Regions from separate parts of the Homo sapiens genome. Here region 2 is linked to region 1. The links come from fine-mapping of genetic effects on gene expression. A gene starts in region 1. The other region holds a variant in brackets. All regions are shown on one strand. Distances are from middle to middle.

Region 1 (2,904 bases):
CACCACAGAATATGAATTAATTCACAGGGAGGCTCCTCGAGCAGGTTACCTCAGGTGTCCTGGCAAATACAGCCCGAAACCCTCTCCAAGGGGAGGCAAACAGGCCAAAGATCAACCTGCAAGAGTCCGGAGGGAGGAAAGTTCAGCAGTCCAGGCTACCTCTTCCACCAGCGTTCCGCTTTCTCAATCTCATCAGGCGGGCAGGGCCGGTTAGGAGGCTGACTGCTGTTCCTCAATTTCATTTCTTTTCCTTCATAAACATTTACAGAGTCACAGAACATTTTACTTTCTAGCTGTGTCATCCTGGGCATCCCTTACCTCAGAGATTTTCCTCACCCATAGAATAAAGATAATGATCTTTGCTCTGCATCCCTGACTGGCAGGCTCAAGTGAGAAGGCACAGGTGAAGGAGCTTCCTAAACTGCAAAGCCCTATGGGTATTATTGCCAATCACATTATCTGCGCCAACCCTCTAATCTTCCCGAGGAGGAAACCCAAGCTCAGGAAGGTCACGTGGTAGCCGTCAGGATGAGACTGGGCCCTTCGGAGTGCCTGTTATTCCCAGACGGTTTACTGAGTGGTGATCACAAGCACCACCCGGTGTCTCTCTCCCCTCTAGCGTGGATTAAGAAAAACTCCTTGGAAAACTTAGGTTAAAGAAAAAAGAAAGGGTTCCCGGGTGAAGCGAGGTGATGAGTTGTAAAGCCAGCTTCACTCTTCCCTCCCTGGCTCAGGAGGCTCCTGTCCAGGGCAACTCAGCAGCCTCGGCGTCCACATGGCTGACCGCCGCTGGACTCTTGCGGGCGATGGAGGACTGGCGGTGGCTGAGGTCAGCACCTCCCACCAGGCCACCCGCTCCGAATCTCATCATCGGGAGGAGTGAGGGGCCCGGCTTCAGGACAGTCCGAGGCGGCGGACTGGGGTGGGTGCAAAGGCCGGCTTGCATTTTGGGAGAGTGGTCCCTGACCCTCAGCCCGAGAGGTGAGAGGGAGTGAAGATACGGAAGCGCCTTTCCCTGGCGCCCGAAGAACAGAAATGTCTCCCTGTCTAGCGCCCATTCTCTCCCTTAAAGGAGTTATGTTTATTTTCCTGAACTGTAATATTTCCCAGGCCGGCGACTGGCCTGGGCTACCGAACGGCCCCTTGGGAAAAGTAGTTCGAGTTCACTTCCAGGTAAGTTCCCTTCGTCCCGGCTGCCAGCGCGTTTCATTCTCGGAGACCTCAAACCCCAGCGGGCTCCGCCAGCACCCCGAAAGCTGAAGTCCCGGCCGCCCGAGTCTCCAGACGGCTCGCATCCCGCAGAGGAACAAGAGGGAAAAACTACGCCTCCCAGCAGCCACCGCGCGCCTCAGTGCGCAGGCGTAGCCGCGCCTCGCCACCCCTCCCCCTCCCCCAACTGCTCCCGTCGGTCCGTTCCCGTGTTCCCCCCATCAGTTCTAATGTCCCCAGTCTCTCCGGCACCTCACACTCACCGCGAACTCGCGGCGTCGGATACAGCCGCTGTGCCTTCTCCAGGAAGCGGAGCGCCCGGTCGGGCTGGTTGCTCTGGATGGCCTTGAGGGCGATGCTGATACAGCGCTCAGCTTCATCCTTGTTGGATTCCATGGCGGAACCAGAACGCGGAACCAGGGAGGGGGAGGCCGGGCGAGCGAAGGGCTGCGCCACCCGCCGGCGCGTCGCGGGCAGCCGGGCGCGGAGTGATGACATCCACCCTCCGCCCCTCCTTTCCCGAGTTTTGAGCGAGGGTGGAAGTGCTACCGTATGTCTTCTAAGAAAGGGACGGCTGGTGTAGGTGTCAATAATGGTGCACGCCCAGATTCCATGTTCCGGAGGTCTTAGAGTTGAGTATGCGCCAACCCTCTAATCTTCCGGAGGAGGAAACCCAAGCTCAGGAAGGTCACGTGGTAGCCGTCGGGATGAGACTGGGGCCTTCGGAGTGCCTGTTATTCCCAGACGGTTTACTAAGTGGTGATCTATATACGTAATGTAACTACATACGTTTCAGACAAAGGTTATTTATTCACTGAACAGATATTGAGTGCCCACTGTTTGTGAGGCATGGTTTTATGATGGGGATACAGGGGTGAGCAAAACAAAGCTCCTGCTCTCATGGAGCTTACATTCCAGTGTGTGTAGGCTGGGGGAGCTCCAGATAGATTCAGATAGTGATAAAAGCTCTGAAGAAAAATTATGGAAAACACAGGGATAGAGAGTGGGAGGCGCTATTTTAAATAGCGCGATAAAAGAAACCTCTCAGAAGCTGTCATTAACAGGTACCAGAATTCAGGAACGATAACAGGTAGATGTGACTGTCTGGAGGAAGGGTGGTCAGGCCGAAGGAACAGCAAGTGCAAAGGCTCTGAAAAGGGAATTCTCTTGGTGAGTTATAACAGATCAGGAAGGCGAATACATTCTAGGGAGCGTAAAGATTCTACTACAGGCTGGGCGCGGTGGCTCACGCCTGTAATCCCAGCACTTTGAGAGGCCGAGGCGGGCGGATCACTTGAGGTCAGGAGTTCGAGACCAGCCTGACCAACATGGAGAAACCCCGTCTCTACTAAAAATACAAAATTAGCCGGGCATGGTGGCACATGGCCTGTAATCCCACCTACTCGGGAGGCTGAGGCGGGAGAATCGCTTGAACCTGGGAGGTGGAGGTTGCGGTGAGCCAAGATCACACCATTGCACTCCAGCCTGGGCAACAAGAGTGAAACGCCATCTAAAAAAAAAGAAGAAAAAAAAAAGATTCTACTACAGAGTGTAATCCAGTTCTATCATTATCCCGTTCTTCGAGGGCTATCACTCCAGTGAAAGCAATCTTGTGAAGGTTGCCAGTGACCTCCACGTTGCCGAATCCCCGAGTCATCTGTCAGCCCTTACATTGCTTGGCCTTTCAGGCAGGAT
Region 2 (2,904 bases), 23 kb before region 1:
GTTTACTCCTCACAACCATCCTATGAGGTAGGTGTTTGTATCACTCCCATTTTGCAGATGAAGACACTGAGGCAAAGGGCAGTCAAATGACACAGGAAAGCAAAAACTGGCTCCCTCCACCCTTCTAGGGTCTTTGACTGTGCTAGGAATTACATGGACAGATAAAGTGGTTAACAGGAGAAAAATCATATTTAATTACGTACATAGGCATGGGAGCCCCACAAAATATGCAATTTCAAGAAAGATCACATCTTGAGCTACAGAAAAGGAACTGGGGTCCAGGATAACCTTTGTACCTTAAAAAAAAAACCAAAAAAAAAAAAAAAAAAAAAACGGGCTGGGAGCTTCTGGTGGGTGATGGCAATGCAAGTTTGGGAGGGTGAGGGGAGGAACTGCATGGTGAGCAAAAGTTGTCTCGTTATGCAGATAAAAAGTCAGTCTCGGCCAGGCATGGTGGCTCATGCCTGTAATCTCAGCACTTTGGGAGGCTGAGGTGGGCGGATCACGAGGTCAGGAGATCGAGACCATCCTGGCTAACACAGTGAAACCCTGTCTCTACTAAAAATACAAAAAAATTAGCCGGGCGTGGTGGCAGGCACCTGTAGTCCCAGCTACTCGGGAGGCTGAGGCAGGAGAATGGCGTGAACCCGGGAAGCGGAGCTTGCAGTGAGCCGAGATTGCGCCACTGCACTCCAGCCTGGGTGACAGAGCGAGATTCCATCTCAAAAAAAAAAAAAAAGTCAGTCTCTCAGGTCTTAACAGTTGTCTGAGCAGCCCCAAGAATAATAGGCAGTTGTTGTCAATGAGTCAATCCTCCTTGGTAGGTAAGATTTCCAGGAGGGAGTTCAGGACAACTTAGGCAGATGAGGCAACTTCAGAGAAAGCCCTTCCTGCACTTGCTGTTGCTCAAGTGCCCCCAGTTTGAAGTAATCAGCACACCAAAATGGCAGATTTTGGGGTGGCATTTCCTGAACTCCTTCAGGGACACCCAAGGTCACCCAGTCAGTAAATGGCAAAGATCCAGCCTCAGCCCCCGTGGGGGCTGCGAGGCTGCCTCCTGGGGATGACGTTTCCTGGTGCAGCCAGATGGATGCCCGTGTCACTGCCAGGAGACACCTACTGGAATGGGCAGCTGCTCCCTAGGCCAAGCCCATCAGATGAAGTGCCACCATCCTCAGTGTGGCCTTTTCATCCTTTTCCACCCTCCTGGACTCGGGTCTTCTGCCCACTCTACCTGACACCAGTGGGTTTGATTTCCCTGAGTGCAGCAAATTTGGGCTCAGCAACTGTTTGTAGAATGACCACTCTGCTACAAGGACCCCAGAGACAGGCACAGTTTCTTCAAGACCCTGGGCGCCACTTTCCTCCCCCAAGCCTGTTTCCTGCTCTGGGAAATGAGCTGACTTGCTCATGTCACATGGCGTGATGTCTGGTAGGGACGCTGGGTTGCTTCTGAACCATGTCAACAGTCTATTTACCTGATTCTTGGCATGGCTGTGTGCCTGCTCCAGACGCCAGGTGACTTTGTCTGGGCAATGTGGGGTGGGGATGAGGTTACAGGCAGGTCGGGTGTGTGCTCCTTGTCCCTGGAGCAGTTTTTTTTTCTCTGGACCTGGGAGCAGCAAGGGACAAGGCTATAAGCTAGTGGAGCCAGGGAGCTGGGATGCAGTGGCGCGTTCTGCCACCTGA[C/CA]AGTGGGTGGGGGACACTTGTCAAAGCCTTTTTTGCTGCAGTCAGAGCGTGCATCCCACCTCCTCTGGCTCACGGCCAAGCCACACAGGGAGGGCAGGGGGGATGAGGTGGGTGAATGGGGGTGCCTGCAACGCCTCTGCCAACCGCAGCTAACAAGTGGCGGCTTGCACACCAGGGCAGGCAGTGGTGACCCTGGGCAGGGGCAGCCAATGAGCTCCCGGGCCACGGTGGCACCACTGGGCAGCCCGCCTGTCTTTGGCTGGTGCAGCCGCGGGAGGGGCCTGGGTCCGCCAGTCAGGGCTGCCGGGCCCTGTCTCTGGGAGGCCTGGGCAGATCTGCCGCTCCATTCACAGGAGCCCGACCCGACTTGGGCTGCCACATTTTAAACTTTTTCAACCTCCTGGAGAGGAGGGCGGGCTGCGGGGGCGGTTTGGGGGAGGATGGTGGGAAGGACGATGGAAACAAACTCGCAACACTTTTCCCAGGATCTGGCTCCTGAGTGGGATCGAGCTCCAGGCTGGGGCCGGGAATTTCGAATGCTCTGCGGGCACATGGCAGGCCTGAGGGTGTGGGGGGGAGGGATTGGGAGAGGGAAAAGCAGAGGGTGATGGTCGTGGCCCAGATGCCCAGCCAGGACTGGCGCTGGGGACCCCAGGGACCCAGACTGCTCAGGTCCTGCAGCCCCCCAGTCACCTGAGCACCCCTCTGCCTGGATGGAGTTAGTTCTGGAACAGCATGTGTGGCTTAAGTGGCTGTTAGCCAGGGCCAGGGGTCGGGGGAAATTCAGGCTCATCATCTAGAGCTCCTTGTGGCACAGGCTGGACAGTGTCAGCAGCAGCAGGGGCTTGTGCCCCCTCCCCCCCACCCCTTAGGCCTCCCTGCTCAATGCAGACCCACCACGGCCAGTCACATAATAAACATATATTAACAGATGTACAATTTGAGAATTCTAATTCAAGAAATACAGCTTCCAGAGGATCCTTTAGGATCTATGTTCTTATTGCACATGGCTCAGCCCGTCTAGGGACATCTACCAAGACCAGATGGTCGGGGCGTGGGGGCAGAGCACCGGGGCCACAGTGGGTAGGCACTCTGGCCACATCAGTTCTTATAATCTCTCTGGGCTGAAGTGGCTGCTTCATTGCAGGGTTGGACCTTGTTTAAAAACCAGATTTGACATTTCCTTACCGAACTTCCTTTCCCAGCAAGAATCCT

Evidence for each region. PIP is the estimated chance that this variant, and not a neighbour inherited with it, causes the effect.
Region 2: its variant is fine-mapped to the expression of DNAJB12 in blood mononuclear cells (TOPMed, PIP 0.92).

The regions. Positions count from the first base shown.
Region 1 is chr10:72,353,293-72,356,196 of GRCh38, forward strand. It overlaps DNAJB12 (DnaJ heat shock protein family (Hsp40) member B12), which reads right to left and starts at 1,627. Exons shown (of 9, transcript NM_017626.7): 1 at 1,473-1,627. The coding sequence starts at 1,605. RefSeq lists enhancers at 1,084-1,213, 1,604-1,853.
Region 2 is chr10:72,330,240-72,333,143 of GRCh38, forward strand. DNAJB12 (DnaJ heat shock protein family (Hsp40) member B12) reads right to left here. Exons shown (of 9, transcript NM_017626.7): 9 at 2,624-2,904. Among named protein-coding and RNA genes, the nearest start is that of DNAJB12, 23 kb to the right of the region's middle. RefSeq lists a silencer at 1,822-2,071. The variant C/CA (reference allele first, on the strand shown) is at 1,690.